2 linked regions of the Homo sapiens genome follow. Each later gene encodes a partner of the first gene's protein in a complex. Each region holds a gene or a part of one and is shown on either strand. Other genes may lie near its edges. The genes, in order: UBE3A and PSMD4.

What was found.
Region 2: the proteins of UBE3A (region 1) and PSMD4 are in contact, whole or in part, in an NMR structure (PDB 6U19), measured with the Homo sapiens proteins. Residues at the interface, in NP_000453.2 of Homo sapiens: Lys25, Arg26, Ala27, Ala29, Lys30, Ile33, Glu34, Tyr37, Asn65, Asn66, Ala69, Ile70, Leu73, Tyr76, Lys77; in NP_002801.1 of Homo sapiens: Glu323, Asp324, Tyr326, Val328, Met329, Asp331, Phe334, Leu335, Val338, Leu339, Asn341, Leu342, Pro343, Gly344, Val345, Asn349, Ala351, Ile352, Ala355, Met356, Leu359, Gln362.

What each region holds. Positions count from the first base shown.
Region 1 is NC_000015.10:25,369,101-25,373,231, reverse strand, and holds part of UBE3A (ubiquitin-protein ligase E3A), read left to right. Parts: intron 1-1,419; coding exon 1,420-2,666; intron 2,667-4,131. UniProt on the Homo sapiens protein: E3 ubiquitin-protein ligase which accepts ubiquitin from an E2 ubiquitin-conjugating enzyme in the form of a thioester and transfers it to its substrates.
Region 2 is NC_000001.11:151,252,730-151,256,329, reverse strand, and holds the start of PSMD4 (26S proteasome non-ATPase regulatory subunit 4), read right to left. Parts: upstream 1,597-3,600; 5' UTR 1,548-1,596; coding exon 1,522-1,547; intron 1-1,521. UniProt on the Homo sapiens protein: Component of the 26S proteasome, a multiprotein complex involved in the ATP-dependent degradation of ubiquitinated proteins.

The sequences.
Region 1 (4,131 bases):
ATTAGGAGTTTTGCATTGTCTTGTAAGAAGGTATTTTAAAAATTTTCAATGAAAATAATGAGAAATAGGTTTCCAGTGGTTTTATGCTTTTGGGGAAGAGGTTACTGATGTTTAGCAAAAGATGCTTATATATTCTTAATAGAACAAACCTGAGAATTAGTTCTTAAAGAGTTAAGGCCCATAAAAGAAACTGTAAGTGTTGGTACTCTTGTAGCTGGGCCACAGATCAGATCCTTAGTATGATAAAATTTGGTATTTTTGTGCTTCAATTTTTGGAGACCATTCAATGATCACTTACATTTTATATTGTCTTTCATTGTGAAACATATATTATAGCAGAGGTGGGAGTCATTAAAAATTCTACATGTTGTACACTACATGTATAAGGGTATATTTGGCGCAATGGAGGTAGGATTGTCTGTGTGCCTCTAAAATTAACCTCTCAAGTAGTTAATCTGATGATGACAAGTATGTCACTTTATTGATAAAAGGGAGAATTAAGACTATTCTCAGTATTATGTTGGTCAGTACACAAAATATATCATTTGTTTTTACCTGTGAAATGAAATATCTTTCATCCTATTAGCCAGAAGGGAGAAAGCCTTGGCCTGAAAATAACACTTATCTCAAAAAGTTGGGAAATGTGGTCCAACTCTGTGCCCAGGAAAAGAGGAAATAGATTTTGATGACTACATAGTCTCTGCACTGCTTGCCAGCTCATAAGTTTACTTCTTTGCACTGTTTGTTTTCATTGCTCAAAAACTATTTTCTGTCACTCTATGAGATTTAGTCTAACCTGATTCCTGGCTGTGGAAAGCAGTTTCTACTTAAGAGCCGATGAGAAATGGTATATTCTTCTCAATCACTCACAGAATGACTACCCTGGAACAAACTAGGAAGACCCAAAATGAACCAGTTTGATTTTAATACATACATAGATGCTGAAGGAGCCTTTTTTTAAGACCTTGCCTTCTTAGTCTTTGGAGAACAGAGTACTGAAACAAGAAAACTCACAGATTAGTAGTATTTCTGTGTGTTCTACAGTGAGGTTTTAAGAGCTGTATTATGATTAATCAGTACATGACATATTGGTTCATATTTATAATTAAAGCTATACATTAATAGATATCTTGATTATAAAGAAAGTTTAAACTCATGATCTTATTAAGAGTTATACATTGTTGAAAGAATGTAAAAGCATGGGTGAGGTCATTGGTATAGGTAGGTAGTTCATTGAAAAAAATAGGTAAGCATTAAATTTTGTTTGCTGAATCTAAGTATTAGATACTTTAAGAGTTGTATATCATAAATGATATTGAGCCTAGAATGTTTGGCTGTTTTACTTTTAGAACTTTTTGCAACAGAGTAAACATACATATTATGAAAATAAATGTTCTCTTTTTTCCTCTGATTTTCTAGATGTGACTTACTTAACAGAAGAGAAGGTATATGAAATTCTTGAATTATGTAGAGAAAGAGAGGATTATTCCCCTTTAATCCGTGTTATTGGAAGAGTTTTTTCTAGTGCTGAGGCATTGGTACAGAGCTTCCGGAAAGTTAAACAACACACCAAGGAAGAACTGAAATCTCTTCAAGCAAAAGATGAAGACAAAGATGAAGATGAAAAGGAAAAAGCTGCATGTTCTGCTGCTGCTATGGAAGAAGACTCAGAAGCATCTTCCTCAAGGATAGGTGATAGCTCACAGGGAGACAACAATTTGCAAAAATTAGGCCCTGATGATGTGTCTGTGGATATTGATGCCATTAGAAGGGTCTACACCAGATTGCTCTCTAATGAAAAAATTGAAACTGCCTTTCTCAATGCACTTGTATATTTGTCACCTAACGTGGAATGTGACTTGACGTATCACAATGTATACTCTCGAGATCCTAATTATCTGAATTTGTTCATTATCGTAATGGAGAATAGAAATCTCCACAGTCCTGAATATCTGGAAATGGCTTTGCCATTATTTTGCAAAGCGATGAGCAAGCTACCCCTTGCAGCCCAAGGAAAACTGATCAGACTGTGGTCTAAATACAATGCAGACCAGATTCGGAGAATGATGGAGACATTTCAGCAACTTATTACTTATAAAGTCATAAGCAATGAATTTAACAGTCGAAATCTAGTGAATGATGATGATGCCATTGTTGCTGCTTCGAAGTGCTTGAAAATGGTTTACTATGCAAATGTAGTGGGAGGGGAAGTGGACACAAATCACAATGAAGAAGATGATGAAGAGCCCATCCCTGAGTCCAGCGAGCTGACACTTCAGGAACTTTTGGGAGAAGAAAGAAGAAACAAGAAAGGTCCTCGAGTGGACCCCCTGGAAACTGAACTTGGTGTTAAAACCCTGGATTGTCGAAAACCACTTATCCCTTTTGAAGAGTTTATTAATGAACCACTGAATGAGGTTCTAGAAATGGATAAAGATTATACTTTTTTCAAAGTAGAAACAGAGAACAAATTCTCTTTTATGACATGTCCCTTTATATTGAATGCTGTCACAAAGAATTTGGGATTATATTATGACAATAGAATTCGCATGTACAGTGAACGAAGAATCACTGTTCTCTACAGCTTAGTTCAAGGACAGCAGTTGAATCCATATTTGAGACTCAAAGTTAGACGTGACCATATCATAGATGATGCACTTGTCCGGGTAAGTTGGGCTGCTAGATTAAAAACCTAATAATGGGGATATCATGATACAGTTCAGTGAATTCATTTTAAAAGTGACTGAAAAAAATGATACCATATAGCATAGGAACACATGGACATTTCTGATCTTATATAAGTATTATACTTTTGTTGTTCCTGTGCAAGTTTATAGATGTGTTCTACAAAGTATCGGTTGTATTATATAATGGTCATGCTATCTTTGAAAAAGAATGGGTTTTCTAAATCTTGAAAACTAAATCCAAAGTTTCTTTCATTCAGAAGAGAATAGAGTGTTGGACAAAGACCAGAACAAGAGAAATGTGGAGATACCCAATAATAAGTGTGGATGTGCAGTCTTGAACTGGGAGTAATGGTACAGTAAAACCATACCATAAAATTATAGGTAGTGTCCAAAAAATTCCATCGTGTAAAATTCAGAGTTGCATTATTGTGGACTTGATGAAGTGACCATGGCAGATCAGTGCCTGTTGCCAGTAAGAGTTGAGTCCTGCTGGGCCACTTAGAATATCCCTGTGTGGACGGCACTGCCTGGCTGTGGTAGTTTCTTCCCACTTAAAAATTCATAGAGACAACTCTGGGTCTTGGAACTTCTGGAAAACAGCAGCTATTCCAAAAATCTGGGGATTAGTGGTGCCTGTAACATCAAGTCCAGGGAGATTGAGCAGGGAAATACTGGAAACTCAGGTACTCATCCTAACTTCCTGGTTTTCCAGATGGGGTTGCCATTTGTTCCTTTTCTTTCCTCCACAAGATAATTTTAGTGTATCTGTTTAAGAATATAAGAGTGGCCAGAAGACAGAAAGCAGTCGTCAGTCACATTTCACCAAAATTTACATTTGTCTCAGGTGCATTATCGCAGAGCTTTATTGTATTTCTAGTATTAGCTATCCCTGTCATTGCTGCTACTTTTTTATCATCTTCAAGTAAAATTTAATGTCAACAAAAATTAAGGTAGTTAATAATACTATAGTATACTAGTAAAGTTGTCTGACACAGACAACTAGGAAATGTGATTTTTACTTTAAAATGTATTTTAGTTTTAGAATGTCTAAATTTTAGTTTTAGAATTGTCTAAATTCGAGAATTCATAAAGCTGTAGCCCGGTGGAAAAAGTTATTTGACATCTCAGAAATTAAAAATTGCAGAGATTTTGTGTGTTTTTTTTTTTTTTGTTACTGGTTTGTTTTTTTTTTTTAATGTCAGATATGTTTATAGTGTTGGAGAAAGATTCTGCATTATTTAAGCAACTCAGGTGGTTTTCTAGCAGAGACAAAAGGGGGCTTTAACTGCCTGAAGTCATTATTATTGCTTGCTTTCTGGTACCCTTTTTATTTCACTTACATAGTTTTGAGACACATGAATAATTAATACACTTAATGACTGATCATAAGGCAGCCAGCACCTTACTTTACATAGTTTAGCAGAATGATAGGGTATTTTATAAG
Region 2 (3,600 bases), on another chromosome or scaffold:
CTCTGTCGCCCAGGCTAGAGTGCAGTGGCGCCATCTCGGCTCACTGCAACCTCCACCTCCGGGGTTCAAACGATTCTCCCACCTCAGCCTCTGGAGTAGCTGGGACTACAGGCGTCCACCACCACGCCTGGCTAATTTTTGTATTTTTAGTAGAGATGGGGTTTCACCATGTTGGCCAGGCTGGTCAGTAACTCCTGACCTCAGGTGATACACCCACTTCAGCCTTCCAAAGTGCTGGGATTACAGGCCTGAGCCACGCCCCAGCCAGACACTTTTCAAAAGACGATATACATACAGCCAACAAGCCTATTAAAAAAACCTCAATATCACTGATCATTAGAGAAATGCAAATAAATCAAAACCACAACGAGATACCACCTAACACCAGTCAGAATGGCTATTACTAAAAACTAAAAAAATAACAGATGCTGGCAAGGTTGCGAGAAAAGAGAACACTGTTCTATCGTTGGTGCAAGTGTAAATTAGTTCAATCACTGGGAATCACTTGAACCAGGGAGGCGGAGGCTGCAGTGAGCCAGACTGGGCCACTGCACTCCAGTCCGGGAGACAGAGCGAGACCGTCTCAAAAAAAAATTATTCATCGTTTATCTGAAACTCAAATTTCACTGGGCATCCTGTATGTTATCTGGCAATGCTATGCTCCCCCGAGAAAATAAAAAGAAGAAATCTCATAGGTGCCTGTTTCACCCAATCGGTGATTTGTGTTCGTCAACTATTCTGTATTACATTCAGTGATTACACTTAGAAGGAACTCTTGAAACCCTGCAAAAATTTATGTCCTCCTCTTCTAATGTGACTCGTAATAGGTACTCAGCCCAAGCCTGAAACTGACAAAGAGAGCTACCTCACCGGATAAAGCCTTTGTGTCAGACAGCCGTGGGTTTAAATCTTGACTCCACCACTTAACTAGCTGTATGATTTTGGACAAATCACTTAAAATCGCTGAGACTCGGTATCCTGAACCGTAAAATGGAGAGATAATTTACCTTAAGGTGTGGTTGTGAGGTATAAGTGAGATAAACAAAATGACTGATACATAAAAAGCAATCTGTAAATGGTACCTTTGAAGATGATACAGGGAAAGGTAATGAAGTTAGAGACGAGGGAATGGGGAGAGGAAGGGATTAATAATCTATTTTCCTAATAGACGTTATTTTGCAAAGAAAGGAGGGCAGAAAACTATTACGATGAGTCCGAAAAGCAGAACTGTAGCTAAAGACAGACCCGGGCTGCTCTAGAGAAGACGGCGCTAGAACAGAGAAAGGAAGCAGGAATGACCAGTCAATGACCGTCCCCCTGGGGGTAACAGTGGTAACCCGGGACTATCCGCCACTCCAGGGCCCCGGGATGACTCAGGGAGTCCAGCGGGCTCCTTACCTCCGGGGCCAGGGCCGCCTCTCGCCCATGAGCCCCTGGCCCCCACCCCAGGCCCTCCCTGCCTTGGCGCTACACGCGCCCGGAACCCAGCTCTGCCCCTCCTGCCCCGAAGTAGCTCCTCACCACACCATAGTGCTTTCCAACACCATCTTGCCACCTTCCTCCCTCCCGACCGGGTCTCCGGGACGGCCTAACAACAACTCCTCCAATTGGCCCGTCGCTCTTCACCAATCACAGACCTCGGCTTGGCCAGCTGCTTCCGCCTCCGTCCCCCACGTTGCGTTCTGGGAGTTGTAGGTGCCGCCAAACAAATTTGTAGGCGTCTTGAGGGTAGTTGAAGGGAATCGCGGTAACACAAAAAACAGGATCTAGCCTCCACTTTCCCTGCCATTGCAGTTCTCAGTTGGGGTTTCCCGCTGGCCGGATCTCAGGGGAGCTATGGAGGAACCTTTGAAAGTGCTGTGTCGATTCCGGCTTCGGCATTTTAAAAAAGTGTCGGGATCGGCCGAGCGCGGTGGCTCACGCCTGTTAGCCCAGCACTTTGGGAGGCCAAGGCGGGCGGATCACGAGGTCAGGAGTTCGAGACCAGCCTGGCCAGCATGGTGAAACCCTGTCTCTACTAAAAATACAAAAAATTAGCCGGGCATGGTGGCGCACGCCTGTAATCCCCGCTACTCGGGAGGCTGAGGCAGGAGAATTACTTGAACCCGGGAGGCAGAGATTGCAGTGAGCCGAGATCGCGCCACTGCACTCCAGCCTGGGGGACAGAGTGAGACTCCGTCTCAAAAAAAGAAAAAAAAAAGTGTCGGGATCGCTAATGACTTTCTACAGCCCTCAGTTCCCTGTAGAATTTTAATTCAACAAGCCCTTATACCCTTCAATTGAATTTATTTGTATATTTATCTCCTCCCTCGTTTAACTAAGGGTGGGCAACGTGCCTTTTTTTTTTTTTTTTTTTTTTTTTTTTTTTTTTTTTTTGAGACGGAGGAGTCTCGCTCTTTCACCCAGGCTAGAGTGCAGTGGCTCGATCTCGGCTCACTGCAACCTCCACCTCCTGGGTTCCAGGGATTCTCCTGCCTCAGCCTCCCAGGTAGCTGGGACTACAGGGGCATTCCACCATGCCCGGCTAATTTTGTATTTTTAGTAGAGACGAGGTTTCACCATGTTGGCCAGGCTGGTCTCGATTTCCTGACCTCAGATGATCCACCCACCTCAGCTTCCCAAAGTGCTGGGATTACAGGCGTGAGCCACCACACCTGGCCGGCAACGTGTCTTAATCTTTACAATTCCCTAAGCCCAGTACAGAGCCCGGAAAAGATTTGACAACTCAATTATATTAACTAATCTGCCAAAGAACAAACCACTAAACCGTTTTGGTTAATCAAAAATTACATTCAAGGCCTGATGCAATGGCTTAGGTTTTATAATCCCAGCGTTTTGGGAGGCCCAGGCAGGAGGATCAACTCAGGCTAGGAGTCTGAGACCAGCCTGGACAACACAGCCAGACTCCGTCTCTACAAAGTTTTATTGTTTGAGACAGGGTGTCGCTCTGTTGCCCAGATTGGAGTGCAGTGGCCTGATCTCGGCTCACTGCAATCTCCACCTCCCGGGTTCAAGCCATCCTCCTGCCTCAGCCTCCTGAGTAGCTGGGGCTATAGGTGCATGCCACCAAGCCCAGCTAATTTGTTTTTAATTTTTTGATGTGGGAGGATGGCTTGAGCGCATGAGTTCGAGACCAGCGTAGGCAACATAGCCAGACCCCATCTCTGAAAAAAAAAAAGTCTCAAAGTGTTGGGATTACAGGCGTGAGCCATCACATCAGCTGGATATTTGATATTAAGCAATTTTTTTAGGCATGATAATAGTGTTAAAGTTATCACCCTTATAAAAGTAGGCTTTATTAAGGGTTATATGTTGTATTCATAGATAAAAAAAGTATATGAAGTTTGGGATTTAACTTAATCCTCTGGAAGAAACAAATAGTTTTGTTTTTTGAGACAGGGTCTCAAAGTAAAACAAAAGAGACAAGGTCTCACTGGGCTGGAGTGCAGCAGTGGTGCAATCATACATAGCTCACTGCAACCTCTAACTCCTGGCCTCCCATCTCAGCCTCCGAAAACTGGGATTACAGGCTTGAGCCACTGCACCCGGCCACGCTGGTCTTATTTATGTTGATAATTATTGAGGCTGGGTTATGTGTAC